Linked DNA regions of Homo sapiens: region 2 is linked to region 1. Evidence: fine-mapped expression QTL. A gene starts in region 1. The other region holds a variant in brackets. All regions are shown on one strand. Distances are between the middles of the regions. Region 1 holds the start of CAMTA2-AS1 (CAMTA2 antisense RNA 1). Region 2 overlaps LOC339166 (a long non-coding RNA gene).

Evidence for each region. PIP is the estimated chance that this variant, and not a neighbour inherited with it, causes the effect.
Region 2: its variant is fine-mapped to the expression of CAMTA2-AS1 in adrenal gland (GTEx, PIP 0.95).

The regions. Positions count from the first base shown.
Region 1 is chr17:4,983,458-4,991,721 of GRCh38, reverse strand. It overlaps CAMTA2-AS1 (CAMTA2 antisense RNA 1), which reads right to left and starts at 3,978. Exons shown (of 3, transcript NR_187235.1): 1 at 3,497-3,978; 2 at 3,130-3,306; 3 at 1,777-3,035. It overlaps CAMTA2 (calmodulin binding transcription activator 2), which reads left to right and starts at 4,047. Exons shown (of 23, transcript NM_015099.4): 1 at 4,047-4,129; 2 at 5,436-5,530; 3 at 5,739-5,842. The coding sequence starts at 5,500. It overlaps INCA1 (inhibitor of CDK, cyclin A1 interacting protein 1), which reads left to right. Exons shown (of 7, transcript NM_001394789.1): 3 at 1,457-1,570; 4 at 1,793-1,832; 5 at 2,098-2,294; 6 at 2,778-2,943; 7 at 3,168-3,592. The coding sequence ends at 3,317. RefSeq lists a silencer at 4,028-4,567.
Region 2 is chr17:5,806,747-5,815,072 of GRCh38, reverse strand. The region is part of intron 1 of LOC339166 (a long non-coding RNA gene); the gene reads right to left. Among named protein-coding and RNA genes, the nearest start is that of NLRP1, 230 kb to the right of the region's middle. The variant G/A (reference allele first, on the strand shown) is at 4,739.

The DNA of each region.
Region 1 (8,264 bases):
TGTTGAGTGGAGCCCAGAGAGGAACCAGGGCTGGATATATAGATTTGGGAGTCATCAGCTTATTGACAGCATGGTACTGGGTGAGATCACCTAAGAAGAGATGAAGACAGAGAAGATAAAGGGCCCCAGGCCTAAGCCCTAACATACTCCATTTCTTAGAGATCAGGAGGGCAATCATCATTCAGCCTGTGGGGTTTGGAAGTGACGAGCAGTGTTCTCAAACAGCTCTGCACACTCCTATTTACAAGGATATTAGTCCTTTTGAGATGGGGAGACAAATGAAGTAAACAGAGGTTCTCTCCCCTGGATCCTTGCATTGACCTAAATGAATCCTATCTGTCATATAACCTGAGTAGCCAAGGCCTTCCTCTTTAACAACTCTGCTTGCTAAATATTACCTTCTCTAACTATGAGGTATAAAGCAAGCTTGTCCAACCTGCGGCCTAGGATGGCTTTGAAGCAGTCCAACACAAATTCATAAACTTTCTTAAAACGTTGAGATTAGGCCGGGCACAATGGCTCACACCTGTAATCCCAGCACTTTGGGAGGCCGAGGCGGGTGGATCACCTGAGGTCAGGAGTTCAAGACCAGCCTGGCTAACATGGCAAAACCCCGTCTCTACTAAAAATACAAAATTGGCCGGGCGTGGTAGTGGGTGCCTGTAATCCCAGCTACTCGGGAGGCTGAGGCAGGAGAATCACTTGAACCCGGGAGGTGGAGGTTGCAGTGAGCCGAGATCGTGCCATTGCACTCCAGCCTGGGTGACAAGAGTGAAACGGTCTCAATAAATACATAAATAAAATAAAATATTATGAGATTTTTTGCAATTTTTTTTTTGAGACGGAGTTTCTCTCTTGTCACCCAAGCTGGAGTGCAATGGCGCGATTTCGACTCACTGCAACCTCCTCCTCCCGGGTTCAAGTGATTCTCCTGCCTCAGCCTCCCGAGTAGCTGGGATTACAGGTGCCCGCCACCACGCCTGGCTAATTTTTTGTGATTTTAGTAGAGACGGGGTTTCAACATGTTGGCCAGGCTGGTCTTGGACTCCAGACCTCAGGTGATCCACCCACATCAGCCTCCCAAAGTGCTGGGATTACAGGCATGAGCCACCACGCCCGGCCAGTGTTAGTGTACTTTATGTGTGGCCCAAGACAATTTTTCTTCTTCCAATGTGGCCCAGGAAGCCAAAAGATTGGACATCCCCGATATAGAGCTTAAACTCAGTGAGATCTGAGGGTCAAACTATAGCCAATCTCCACCCTCAACCCAGCTTCAATTTCCTTTCAAAGCAGAGGCCTTACCACCTTCTTCAGCTAAAGTGGTTAAGAGAGGACATGGCCCGAGGGAACCTGGGCAGCTTTATAGTCCCATGGAAAGATGGCCCCTGAATCCTTGGGATGAGTAGACTGCTGTAAGGGAAGAGCCAGACCCGAGCCTACCTTGTCCTCACCTCAGGTGTTCCAGGGTGGTCAGCCGATCTCCACCCCCAAGGTTGCCTTCCCAGAGCCTCAGACCCATGCCCCAGCGTTATGGAGATGTCTTCTGGAAGAACCTTAATCAAAGGCCCACGTGAGTAGAGGAGAAAATGGAAACTAACTGGATGTGGTCTTAACTGGATTAAACTACCATAAACCCATATAGCAATAGGCCCTAGTCTGCGGTTAATTTCCCACTGGCTGGTGGACATTGTAGCTCCTAATGACAGAAAGGAGGTCGGGAGAGATTATTAAAGAAGCAATATGGATGGACATGTCCCCTCTGCACTTATAGCCCCCTTTTTGTTCTTCACAGCCCCACTTGGCTGGAGGAGCAGCACATTCCACCCATGCTGGTAAGACAGACCCTCTGCCGTTTAACATTTCTCTGTTAAAATTGCACCCACTGCTGTCCTGTCCCAAGCTCTCCTTATTACCGCTTCCCTCTGTTATTCCCCAACCAGTGCACTGACCAGGCCTTCCTTTCTATGAATCAGTCATCATGTTTTCGAGATCACAGGGGTCTTCCCAAGACCCCAGACTCCCTACCTAGTTCAATCCAAGCTCCCTTGAGAGAGCCAGTTCTTCTTTCTAGCTCTTTTTCCCCATTCTCTGGCACAGAGAGCCACTGGTTGCTCCCAGCTTGGTCTGTATCCTCCTGAGCAGCTCCCACCCCCTGAAATGCTTTGGAGAAGAAAGAAGAGGAGGCCATGTTTGGAAGGAATGCAGCAGCAGGGCCTTGGGGGAGTCCCCGCCCGGGTGAGGGCTGTCACTTACCACCTGGAGGACCTAAGAAGGCGTCAGAGCATCATCAACGAGTAAGGAAGGGAGACATCTGGGTTCTGGGAGTCATGCAGGATTTGGGGGCAGAACAGTTTGAGCTAAGGAAGGGGTTGACAGCTTTGAGGGGAGGTTTGAGGGGAGCTTTGAGGGGAGGTTGCTTGGAAGGAAGCTGTGGGCTTTGGTGTGATTGAAACAGATTTCTGTAATATGGAAAGAAGGAGGGAACTGCAGTAAGGAGGATGAGCCACATGAGCTGGAAGGAGTGGAAACTAGATCACTGAAGACAGGAAAGCAAACCATAGAACTGGAGGACAGTGGGGAGGTTGGGGTCACCTCTGGGTTCCTAGACAATATGCTTCAGTCTGAGGGGAGCAGAAAATTGGGAGTGGAGGGTTAAAGGTCAAATGACAACTCCCTGGAGTCCCAGCAGGAAGTATTTCAGAACAGAAAGGTGAAGAATGGAGAGACAGGAAGCCTGGCCTCCAGGCACTTCTCTCCTCAGCCTAAAGTCTCCACAGACTGAAGAAGGCCCAGTGGGGCAGCTCTGGGGCTGCATCTGAGCCAGTGGTGCTTGGCGAAGAGGGCTGTGGATTCCCCAGCACCAATGAATACCCTGATCTGGAAGAGGAGAGAGCAACCTATCCACAGGAAGAGGACCGTTTTCTCACTCCTGGCAGGGCCCAGGTATTGTTGGAGTGGAACTGGGTGGAGTGAGGGAGTGATGTGGGTCTCTGGTCTTGCATGGAGATGCAGAAGCTGAGAGCCAGGCTGGAGAGCTGGATTTGAGAGAAACAAAAATAACGTAGGTGAGAACCAGAGACTTCGAGGTACCTAAGCTTGGGTACTAGGAAATCTGGAAAGAAGACCTACTTTTCCATTTTCTTTTTCAATTTCTCTCATCTTGACAGCTGCTTTGGTCTCCCTGGAGCCCCCTGGATCAGGAGGAGGCTTGTGCCTCCAGGCAGCTGCACTCTCTGGCCTCGTTCAGCACTGTCACAGCCAGAAGGAACCCCCTTCACAATCCCTGGGGGATGGAGTTGGCAGCGTCTGAAGAGTAAGGAGAAACCACCGATGCCGAGAGGCTAGTGGTGCCCCAGGGACCCAAGACTAGTTCCGTCACTAGAGTCACCCTCATTGCTGACATGAAGGCGTTTCCCCTTCCTTCGTCTCTCCAACTGCCTTTCCCATCCTCTGAACTAGGCATTAACAGCCCCCGTGGGCTCCCATCTCAACCCACCGCTCTCACAGGAGCACCCCAAGTCCTGTTTTCCTCCAGGCCCCGCTCCTGGCCTTGTATTCTCTCTGCTCTGTTATTAAAAAGCAAGCAAGTGGAGCCCGAGTTGTCTTTCTTCTTGGGATGCAGCGATGGAGAGGCCAATGGGGAAGGAGGGCTCCTTTCGCTTTCTCGAGGACCCAGCTACAATGAAGTCGGGCTGGGTCCCCAGACAAGGAGTCTTGTCCGAGGCGAGAAGGGTCCTGCTCCCAGTCCAGCGTTCCTCGCCCGGCCCCTCGGGTTCCAGCACTGGTGGGCTGCCCCCGCCCCGTTCTCTCGAACTGGGAGTCAGTCGGCCGAGCTTCCGCCTCCAGGACCCTGGAATCCTGCCCCTCAGTGCTGCTGCCCTTTTGGGGACTTCCCAGCAGTCTGTCCCTCGGCCTGGCTCAGAGCCCTAGAAGCCGAGTCCCTCTGCCCAGCGCCCCACCCAGAACTCCACGTGTGCTGACCCCAGGTTCCCTTCCTGACCCTCATCCCCTTAATTGGGAGGCCCCGCCCCGTGCGCAGTGACGTTAGACGCCGCTGTCAGCCGGCGCTGGGGGGGGTCGGTGTGGGGTAGAATGGCCGCTGCCGCCGTCACCCGCGGGACCCCGGGAGGTAAGAGCCAGGGCCTCTCGCCCGCCTCTCCGCCCCCGCGCCAGAGGGCGCAGCTCCTCCAGGTCCCGACGCGGAGCGCCGCGCCAGGGACCACCGTCCCTCTTCCCGGTTCGCCCTCACCTCCCGCTTCCGTCCTCCTCCCCCGCGCCAGGGGGCGCCGCTCACCGCAGGGCCCCACGGCGGACCAGCGCGTGCCGGGGACTGTCCCGGAGACCCCCGCACCCGGCACCTGCACTGTCCCTCGCCCACCGCGTGCCCGCGGACTCTGCTCCCGGCTTCTCCAGAACATCCCTCTATGCGGGCGGGACCCTCCCACCTCGGAGGTTCTCCTGGGACCACCACTCCGCCGGGGGGCCGCCCAGAGTGCCAAGCGTCCGATCCGGCGCCGCCCAAGTGCAGCCCAAGGACCCGCTCCCGCTCCGCACCCTGGCAGGCTGCCTAGCCAGGACTGCGCACCTGCGCCCTGGGGCGGAGTCCTTACCCCAACCCCAGCTTCACTGCACATAGCCGAGCCCGACGGGCCTCCTCCCATCTCCATCCTGGACACCTGGCGGAGCCCGTGCTGAGAGCCTCCGCCAGCTCCCATCTGTTCCCCGAGGAGGGCGGGGGGCTCAGGCTGGAGCCAGAGCGGTAGATGGGGTAGGCTAGGCCTGGAGGCCAGGGGAGGCAGAGGCGTTTGGGGAGAGGGAGCTACGTAGAGAGGGCTGTCAGCCGGAGGGTGGGTTGTCCTGAGGGTGGGAATCTGGGTGTCTGGCCCAGATTCTATCAGGTCCTAACCAACCTGGAGGAGAGAATAGGTTAGGTTCAGTTATCAGATCTGCCCTTCCCCTTGGAAAAATCAAACAGAGAAGGAACTCAGGGCGTGTCTTCTAAAGGCCTAGCTTCTACCGGAGGTAGAATCTCCTGCCCTGCCCCCAGGATCCAGGCTCTCTTGCCAAACCATCCTCCAAGGACCGGATGGCCTGAGTCCCAACCCCCAGGACCTGACCCAACCATAGCCCCAGTCTGTGCAAAAGCTCAAGGTTTAGGGCCTCTGAGGCCCAAGCCCTGCCAGTCTTCTCCCCGCTCCCCCACCCCAACCCATTTCTTCCTGCTCACTCTTCCTGTCCAGTCTGCTCACTCATATTGGCTCCGGGCACTGTGTGTTGTTCTCTCTTCTACTGTCACATCACAGTCAGCCCCTCCCTCCCTTTCCTCATCCTTCCCAGATACTATGACCCAGTTCTATACCCACTCCCTACCTCATACTTCTCATCCTGGATTAATGTGGGGGCTTCTGCCATGACCTTGTTCTCTCCCTTCCCAGCACAGACTCCCCCTCCCCCCGGCCCCTCAGGCCGGGGGTGACCTTGCCCCCTGGAGCCCTCACCATGAATACCAAGGACACCACCGAGGTTGCTGGTAAGTTCACAAACCAGGTTCCCAATGTGGCCACAGCCTTTCGTTCTCCCCACGCTTTAGTGGCCCTCTAATTCTTGGATTTTCTGTTCTCCTTAGTGAGGTTTCAGTTTTCCCCAGTGCTCTGTATTGCCTTCAGCCCTTTCCCCTTGGACTATCACAGGGATGCCCCAGGGTAGCACACTAAACCCTCCCTTCTAATTCCCTTTAGAAAACAGCCACCACCTGAAGATCTTTCTCCCCAAGAAGCTGCTGGAGTGTCTTCCTCGCTGCCCGCTGCTGCCTCCAGAGAGGCTACGGTGGAATACAAATGAGGTTTTCTAGGGAGGCTGGGGGTTGGGGCCCAGCAAGACCTAGTAGGCTGGAGGAGGGTGAGTGGGGGGTCTTTCCGTGTCTGTCAACACTCCTAAGTGCAGAGCACCATTCTAAGCTCTTTGGGGATCCTAGGAGAGGTATAAAAACATGGATCTTGGCCGGGCATGGTGGCTCATGCCTGTAATCCCAGCACTTTGGGAGGCTGAGGCGGGTGGATCATCTGAGGTCAGGAGTTCAAGACCAGCCTGGCAAACATGGTGGAACCCCGTCTCTACTAAAAATACAAAAAGCAGCCAGGCGTGGTGATGTACGCCTGTAATCCCAGCTACTCGAGAGGCTGAGGCGGGAGAATTACTTGAGCCAGGGAGGCGGAGGCTGCAGTGAGCTGAGATCACGCCACTGCACTCCAGCCTGGGTGACAGAGTGAGACTCCGTCTCAAAAACAAAAACAAAAAGACATGGATCTTGAAGGAGCCCTCTTTTCTGTGGCATAGCCACCTGGGTAAAAACAAAAGCTACTGCCAGTAAAGTATTCCTTACATACTGGGCACCGTGCTAAACATTTGGCCTGCCTTGTCTCATTTAATCCTCTAACGGTTCTATAGAGCAAGCCCTGTTATTGCTCCTATGTTATTGATGAGGAAACTGATTTACCTCATAGTTTATCTAACTTACTCCAGGGCCTTTTTTTTTGAGACGGAGTCTCGCTCTTGTTGCCCAGGCTGGAGTACAATGGCGCGATCTTGGCTCACTGCAACCCCCGCCTCCTGGATTCAAGTGATTCCCCTGCCTCAGCCTCCCAAGTAGCTGGGATTACAGGCATGTGCCTCCACGCCCGGCTAATTTTTGTTTGTTTTTTTTTTGAGATGGAGTCTCGCTCTGTCGCCCAGGCTGGAGTGCAGTGGCGCGATCTCGGCTCACTGCAAGCTCTGCCTCCCAGGTTTACGCCATTCTCCTGCCTCAGCCTCCGGAGTAGCTGGGACTACAGGCACGCCACCACACCTGGCTAATTTTTGTATTTTTAGTAGAGATGGGGTTTCACTATGTTGGCCAGGCTGGTCTCGAACTCTAGACCTAGTGATCCGCCCATCTCGGCCTCCTACAGTGCTAGGATTACAGGCATGAGCCACCACGCCCGGCTGGAACCTTTGTTATTAACCACCACTGATACTGGCTCTTTCTGGAGGAGGCACAGTCCTTGTGTTACACATTTTCTGTATTCTGCATACTTACTGCCTTGTATGTAGTTGGTTGTTGATATTTATCAATTTGATGTCAGAAGAGGACTGTCAGTAAAACGATGCGTGTATGTGTGTATGTGTGATTGTTGTAAGTGCTATAGAGCGTTTAGGAAGGTCCAGTGTGGTCAGCAGGGCTTCATGGAGCATCTGAAAAGGGGTTTGGTTTATAGAATGGCTATGATTTCCAGATATGGAGAGGTGTGCACATGGTACCTGCCTTGTAGGGCACTAACATGCAGGAGGTAACTATTCAAAGCATGTTCAGGAAGGAATCAATGGATCCATCTGGCAGGAATTGTAGGAGCAATATGGGTAAATAGTGGGAACAGTGAAAGTTTGATCCCTTGTTGGGAAGAACCTTGGAGTCAGGCTAAAGAATCTGAAACTCCTGCCAGGCACAGTGGCTCACGCCTGTAATCCCAGCACTTTGGGAGGCTGAGGCGGGTGGATCACGAGGTCGGGAGATCAAGACCATCCTAGCTAACACAGTGAAACCCCGTCTCTACTAAAAATACAAAAAATTAGCCGGGCGTGGTCGTGGGCGCCTGTAGTCCCAGCTACTCAGGAGGCTGAGGCAGGAGAATGGCATGAACCCAGGAGGAAGAGCTTGCAGTGAGCCGAGATGGCGCCACTGCACTCCAGCCTGGGTGACAGAGCGAGACTCTGTCTCAAAAAAATAAATAAATAAATAAATAATCTGAAATTCCTGGCAGTGTCAAACCACTGAAATTTTTTGAGTCAGGAAGGGGCACAGAGGCCAGGAGTGGTGGCTCATGCCTGTAATCCCAGCACTTTGAGAGGCTGAGGTAGGCGGATCACCAGAGGTCAGGAGTTCAAGACCAGCATGGCCAACATGGTGAAACCCCGTTTCTACTAAAAATACAAAAATTAGCTGGGCACGGTGGCAAGTGCCTGTAATCGCAGCTACTCTGGAGGCTGAGGTAAGAGAATTGCTTGATCCTGGGGGGCGGAGGTTGCAGTGAGCTGAGATCATGCCATTGCACTCCAGCCTGGGTGACAGAGTAAGATTCTGCCTCAAAAGAAAAAAAAAAAAGTCTGGGCACGGTGGCTCACGCCTGTAATCCCAGCACTTTGGGAGGCCAAGGCGGGTGGATCACCTGAGGTCAGGAGTTCGAGACCAGCCTTACCAACATGGTGAAATCCTGTCTCTACTAAAAAAA
Region 2 (8,326 bases), 820 kb before region 1:
AAATTGATGGTGAAATGCACGTTATCTTTCTGAGGGACAACTGGGTAATAAGAATTAAAAGAATTCTAAGTATACTTTTGGTGTAGCAATTCTAGGAATTGATCCTGAGGAAATAATCAAGAATCACAGAAAACTTTGGGAGCTTTAAAAATATACAGATGCCTGGAACCCGCCGTCAGGAATTCTGAATTCTGGGGTGCTGTTAGAGGGTTGTCCATTAGAGTTTCTATCATGATCCTGAAAAATCAGTGGACAAAACCCAAATAGCCAATGACTTAGGGCTGGACAAAAATACACTACACTGTAAAATATTTCAAGAAATAATATGAACCATTACAATAATTTTTTTTTTTTGAGACGGAGTTTCGCTCTTGTTGCCCAGGCTAAAGTGCAGTGGCGCAATCTCGGCTCACCGCAACCTCCACCTCCCGGGTTCAAGCAATTCTCCTGCCTCAGCCTCCTGAGTAGCTGGGATTACAGGCATGCACCATCACGCCCGGCTAATTTTGTATTTTTAGTACAGACGGGGTTTCTCCATGTTGGCCAGGCTGGTCTCAAACTCCCGACCTCAGGTGATCCACCTGCCTCAGCCTTCCAAAGTGCTGTGATTACGGGCATGAGCCACCATGCCCAGCCCCATTAAAATCATTTTAGAAATATGTTTAGAGACTTGGAAAGGTGTTCACATTAAGATTAAAAATAGTGTGTTTATTGATTTCCAATCATTGCATACATATATAATATAGTGAGAAAGAATTAATATATATGAAGTAATGGAAGGACCTACCTCTGTAATATTAACAATCATTTTTCCTAAGTAAGAGCATTATTACTGTGGTTACATTTATTTTCTTTCTTTCTTTCTTTCTTTTTTTTTTTTTTGAGACAGAGTCTCCCTCTGTCACCCAAGCTGGAGTGCAATGGCATGATCTTGGCTCACTGCAACCTCCGCCTCCCGAGTTCAAGTGATTCTCCTGCCTCAGCCTCCCAAGTATCTGGGACTACAGGTGCACACCACCACACCTGGCTAATTTTTGTATTTTTAGTAGAGACAGGGTTTTACCACATTGGCCAGGCTGGTCTCAAACTCCTGACCTCAGGTGATCCACCCGCTTCAGCTTCTCAAAGTGCTGGGATTATGTGTTATTTTCTTAATTATATTTTCTAATTTTGCTACAGTAAACATGTATTATTTGTAATTTTAAAAAGTTAAAGTTGGCGCAGGTTAAACACATGCATTTAGCACTGCTCTATCTCAAGCCTCACTAAAATAACAATAAAAGGATTTCTTTTAAGTCATAAGCCCATTAGGTTTTAAAAGGTAAGTGAAAGGATATAACTACAACAAAATTTTGGAAGCAGGAAAGCAGCTGGAGGAGCAGTTGGAAGGGCTGTAACTAAGAAATCTGCTTCTCAATCAAGAGTAAGAAAAGCCAACAGGCAACCTGGATTACATCTCAGACCACCTGCCCCCACTACCATAGTCTGCTGGAAATGTAGATTAACATGTGACAGAAACAAAGCCATTAGTTGAGAGTCTGTGTAAGAAGATCGCAAGTCCCTTTTTCCTCACCCCTGCAGAGAACTGAAGCTTTAGTCTCTGGAAGGTCTATTCTCTAGGGAAAGGAAAAAAAATAGAGGCACTGAAGCACCCCAGATACAGCAGAGAGCAGGGAGAATTAGTAAAGGTTTGCAGACTCAGTGCGGAACCCCACCTCCCAGACTTCTTCTCGCCCTCAGCTCCCAGATTGCTAGGCAGGACATGGAAATGATCTCCAGGTCATCTGACAATCTCCAAAGGAAAAACCTAGAGATACCAACATTGAGATGCCCAGAGACCAGCTACGTGAAGCTCACAATTGACAAGCTGTATCCATAAGCGCAGCTTCCAGTTAGCTTTCAAATATGAGCTGGAACTAAGGCTCCCCAGACAGTTGAGGAGAACTTTAATGTGAAAGACAGAAACTTAAATAAGCATGGGAAAAAGAGCAGCTTGGAGGAGGCAGAGACCTTGCAGGAAAAGGGAAACTTAAAGAGAGAGAAAACTATCCATCACAGTAGTGTAAACCAAAAGTATCTGAGACAGGTCTCAATCAATTTAGGAAGCTTATTTTGCAAAGGTTAAGGACACAGCCTCAGGAGATCCTGAGGACGTGTGCCCAAGGTGGGCAGGGAACGGCTTCGTTTTATTCATTTAGGGAGACATGAGACATTAATCACTACATATAATATGTACATTGGATCCATCTGGAAATGTGGGACAACCAGGGTGGGGCTTCCAAGTCATAGATGGATTCAAAGACTTTCTGACTGGCAATTGGTCAAAAGAGTTATTCTCAATAGAGAGGAATGGCTGGGTGCGGAGGCTCATGCCTGTAATCCCAGCACTTTGAGAGGCTCAGGCAGGCGGATCATGAGGTCAGGAGATTGAGACCATCCTGGCTAACATGGTGAAACCCCATCTCTACTCAAAATAAAAAAAACTAGCCAGGAGTGGTGGCGGGCACCTGTAGTCCCAGCTACTCAGGAGGCTGAGGCAGGAGAATGGCATGAACCCAGGAGGTGGAGCTTGCAGTAAGCCGAGATTGCACCACTGCACTCCAGCCTGGGTGATAGAGCAAGACTCTGTCTCAAAAAAAAAAAAAAAAAAAAAAATCACTAGAAAGGAATGTCTGGGTAACCATAAGGGGTTGTGGAGACCAAGGCTTTATCATGCAGACAAAGACTCCAGGTAGCAGGATACAGAGAGAATAGACTGTAAATGTTTCTTCTCAGATGTACAGAGTCTGTTCTATCCATAATTCCAAAAGGGCAGAGGGGATAATGAGGCATGTCCAGCTCCCTCTTCCCATCATGGCCTGAACTTGTTTTTCAGCTTAACTTTGGAATGCCCTTGGCCAAGAGGAGGGGTCCCTTTAGATGGCTGTGGGGGTCTTAGAATTTTATTTTTGGTTTGCAGAGAGGAAAGATTGCTGTAAAAAAATAATGAGGCCAGGCGCAGTGGCTCACGCTTGTAATTCCAGCCTTTTGGGAGGCTGAAGCAGGCAGATTATGAGGTCAAGAGATCAAGACCATCCTGGCCAACATGGTGAAACCCCATCTCTACTAAAAATATAAAAAATTAGCCAGGCATGGTGGCTCACGCCTGTAGTCCAGCTACTCGGGAGGCTGAGGCAGGAGAACCACTTGAACCCAGGAAGCAGAGGTTGCAGTGAGCCGAGATCATGCCACTGCACTCCAACCTGGTGACAAAGTGAGATTCTATCTCAAAAAAACAGAAAATGGCACCGATTAAAAAAAAAGAATGAAATAACATAAACATCAAAAAACTTCTAAAATTATCAAATAGCTTCTAAAATTATGCAGAAATGAAAAACTCATTAGGATAGACGATAGAGTGAAGAGATATCTCCCAAAAGACAAAAAGGTGGAAAGGAGAAAAATATGTTAGCAGACATGTCCAGAAGGTATAATATTTAAACAAAAGGAATTTCAGAAAGGGGACCTGAGAAAATGATGAAAGGAACAATTGACTAAAAATCCCAAAACTGAAGGATCCACATTGAAAGGAAAATAATTACCAACCTATAAGTCTTTACCCAGCAAAGCTACCAATTATGTGTAAAGGTCAAATGAAGATATTGTCAGACATGCAAGATGTCAAAAGTCTATCTTCCAGGCACTGTTTCTCATGAAAACAGCAGAGATGGGTTGGTCCCCAATAAGCAGGGTAAACAGAGAAAGAGATACAGGGGACAGAGTACACAGGAGATCCAACCCAGGAGACAGGCAAAGAGAATCTCCACAATGATGTGATGGAAGGTCCCAGATGTCAACTAAGCAGCAGGCTGGGAGAACACCCACCTCTGACAGGCTGGTTAGGGGTTTCTTCAGGAAAATGAAACATATAGTATATCTGTCTGAACACCTTCTGGGGAAATCTAGACAATTGGCAGAGAGCTTGGCATTGGATTATTGGAAAATCCACAGAAAACGAGAGAAATGAAAGACCCAGGACAGTTATGAATTGCATGGAAGATGAAAGGCTGGGCCATCATAGTATGCAGAAAAGTAATCGTGGCCAGGTGCAGTGGCTCATGCCTGCAATCCCAACACTTTGGGAGGCTGAGGTGAGTGGATCATTTGAGGTCAGGAGTTTGAGACCAGCCTGGCCAATACGGTAAAACCCCGTTTCCACTAAAAATACAAAAATTAACTGGGCATGGTGGTGCATGCCTGTAATCCCAGCTACTTAGGAGGCTGAGGCAGGAGAATCACTTGAACTGGAGAAGTGGAGGTTGCAGTGAGCTGAGATCATGCCATTGCACCCAGCCTGGGTGACAGAGTGAGACCCTGTCCCAAGGGGAAAAAAAAAGAAAGAAAAAGTAATCATAGGACACTGCACGTTCCTGCTATAAAAGCACTTACATAGGGATTGTAACATAAACCTGGTGGTGATCTCACCAAAATCTTCACCATGTTTTGGGAGGAAAGAGAATGGGGGAAGAGCAGTGAGAAGAAAAAAGAGCTAAATCCATCTTATTCACAGTAGGAAACCAGGAGATAGTGCCCAACACTACACAATATAGAAATAGCTGCAAGATTATTATATAAAGCAAAGAGATCAATACCACAAGAATGGGCTAAAATCTTGAAAGTTCTTGCCTCCAGGGATGAGAAAGAGGGAGGACGGTTTCCAATAACAAGCCTCATAGACCTATCAGGGTCTTCAAATTTG[G/A]TATATGTATAAATTGGATAAAAACTAAAACAAATTATCCCTTTTTTAACTTGGGCAATGGAACTAAAGGCTTTCTGAAATTGCCTTTACCTATAACAGTGCAGGGCTCAAAGTGATTTCTTATTTTTAGGAAACACAATAGGCAGTTTTCTTGAACTCTGAGGTCTTCTGGCATCCCTTGCTGTTTGTGAAATGACTCCCTTAAGTGAAGAAATAGATCAGAGTCACATTCCCTGTGTATTGAGTTTGGGTGCGTTTTGGCATGTCCCTGCCACTGAGCCCTGTGAATCGATGTAAAGCACAGGACTAATGAGATCCTGGTGCACATCAGCTGCCCCTCAGTCACCCCCAACTCCTTCCCTAGACAGGCCTTGGACTCCAGCAAATCAAGGGCAGCTCATGCCCCTTGCTGGGGGCTCTCCTAGCCCCCTCCTCCATCACCCACTATGCATATTCCTGAGGCTGCAATGAATGTTCCCAGAGATTGTTGCAGGAATCAAGGGACAAGAGAGACCAATGGGTGAGACAGGAGGATTTATTAGGTGTGCACCAGCCCAGTGGATTAGCATCCAAAGGCTGAGCCCTGAACAAAGACAGGGCTTGACTTTTATATATGCATCCAAAAGGGGACTGGCCAGTTTGATGGCAGAAAACCCGTAGGGCAGGCAAGCAAGCTTACAGAAGCAGAACAAAGGCAGTGGGTCAAACAGTGACAAGTTTTGCAACTCAAACATACCTTGTGAACTTGCACAGAAGGGAAACACATGAACTTATAAAACTTGCAAAAATAATTATGAGAATAGTAAGGGGAAACGGGGAAGCTGAAAGAGAAAAAACTTGTTTTTCTCATCCCTGCTCCAGGACAGGAGGGAGAGGCTCTGGAGCCCATCCCTTCTGGGCCCTGGCTCTGCAGATAGTGCTATCAGAGCCCTGACAGAGCCCTGCCCATCTCTGGGCCTTGGAGTGAGTCAGCCTAGTACAGGAAAATTTGTTTTTCTTTTTATAACTTCTGCTTCAAGATGGCCTAGAACCCATCTAATCAGGCACCTGTCTTGTCTCCACCACCTGCTCACCACCAGTTTTTGTGGCCACTTCACATCCACAGTGAGTGCTGGGGGCTGCGGCCTTGGGCCAAGTCACTGCCAGGAAAGTGCTTGGCAGCTTCCAGCCAGGGAGCAGGTGGCAACAGCAACCACCCAGCAAGGCCACCCAGCAAACCCAGCAGCAGGAGTTTTCTCCACTGTTGAGCTAGCATTTATTACTCTTAAAATAAAGTGGTGCCATGCAGCATGAATTCAGGAGAAGAAGCTGCAAATTCCAGGCCCTTTTGAAGGCTTGTTTTCACAATGAATTAATAGGCTTTAATTTAACACTGCATCAACAAACCAGGCTGCTGAAGGAATTCCAAATACTAGCGGCTTTCTGCACCCATTCTGGCTCTCAGCTGCCACCACAGGACTGCAGCAACATTATTCATCACTGTGCAAGATAATAACAGTAATAGCTAATATTTATTGAGTGCTTACTATGTGTCAAGCATTGTGTTCAACGCTTTACAAGCATTATTGCACTTAATCTTCACAAAAAGCCTCTGAAGTAGACATTATTATTACCTTTATTTTATAGAAGAGAAAATAAGCTTATGAAGGTGAAGTTGCTTAAGGTCACATAGGTAGAAAGTGGTAGAACCAAAGTGTGAACCCATGTACTGATAGAAGTCCCCAGGAAATGTTGTTTGCTGGGATCCAGGTGCCCTAAACTCACCACTTTGTGACCAGGTCTTTTCCTTTTGCTCGCCAGACCTCTAAATTAGATGAAACTTATCAGCCTTAAATATAAAGTATAAAACAGGCTGATTCAATTTGATTATAATGCAACTGTCTGAAGTAGGAGTAAATGTTCTGCTTGAAATATAAAAGAAATATCATTTAAAAGGACTCCTGGGCTACTTGTGCCTCAACAGCCATGCTGTTTACATCTATTTCAGTATTTATGAGGGCAGTCCCTGGCTGTCCTCATAAAGAGTTAGAATCAGTCCCATGACCAGCTCTCTGAGACAGCTTTGGCTTTGACCTTGCCAAGGTTCTCAAACAGAGTTGCTGTCTAACCTGGCTATACATAGTCCCACCTGCTCAGCAACCTGCGGGCAGCCAGTGCCTCCTCCCCACATCCAAGGAGCGGATGTAAAAAACATCTGGTGGATCACAAGGGTAAGAGATAGAGACCATCCTGGCCAACATGATGAAAGCCTGTCTCTGCTAAAAATACAAAAATTAGCTGGTCATGGTGGTACACACCTGTAGTCTCAGCTACTCGGGAGGCTGAGGCAGAAGAATTGCTTGAACCCAGAAGGCGGAGGTTGCAGTGAGCCGAGATCATGCCACTGCACTCCAGCCTCATGACAGAGCAAGACTCCATCTCAAAAAGAAAAAAAAAAAAAAAGAAATCTGCAACTCAGCAATACCTCAGGGAGCATCTTTTTAGTCTCTTATAGTCATGACATATTTTGTGACACAGATTTTCTACTTTTCCCCACAAAGGGCCCCAAAAACTCTTCTGATATGTGATCACAGACAGAAAACCTCTCTGAACTTTTTTGGAAAAATAGCTCATTATTGAACTGCAGCACTGAGTTTGTAAAATAATTTGGAAGGAAGGGGAAGTATGTGCTCCTCTCTTCTCCCCTCTCCTGTCCTCTCCTGTACATACCTCCCCTTTCTGCCAAACCACAATAAAATGACAGAAGAAGAATAAATATAAGAATAGCTTATAACTGCCTTGTAAAACAAGGAGGAATACCATTGATAAAAAGATATTTATCACTGAACAGTAAAGAATCAAAACATAGGGAAAAAAAGCTTTTCAGAAAAATGAAGAGATAAAATTACTAGCCTATTGACATTAACATACCTCTGCCCCCCAAAGAGAGAGAGAACTCAGTTATAATTATAATTAACAAATATGATTCAGTAGATATGTAGAGGACTTCATAACTTATAATGAAAGCATTGAATGTTTACAAAGACTGACCAGGATAAATGCATAAAGAAAATTTCAGTACATGCCAAAAAATGTAGGACATTAACAAGGAATCTTCTCTGGCTAGAAAAGAATAAAACTAGAAACATTTAACAAAAGAATAATATCAGAAAACTAACCACAAAAAAATTTGAAAAGCACTGTTCAAAGGTAACTAAAATTACAGGTCACTTAAAAATTAAAGACACAAAGATCACTATATATAAAATCCCAGGGGATGAAGACCAAAGCCCAGCTCAAAGAAAAAGTGATCACCCAAAATACTTTTATTCTCAAACAAAAAGAATGAAAACAAATCAACCAAGCTTTCAATTCAATAAGTTAGATGACAAACCATGAGATTTTTTAAGGTAGATGAAATATTTAATCTTTGTAGTTGAAAGCAAGAAAGAATGAATTAAAAAGAAACACAATATCTATGAAGCTCAACAAACTAAAAACCTGGTTATCTGGAAATTCTGGTAAAATGTACCAAAAATTGGCATGTAAAGGATAAAAGAAAGGAAACACAAATACCTCATATTTTTTAAAAGTGAATAGAGATTATAA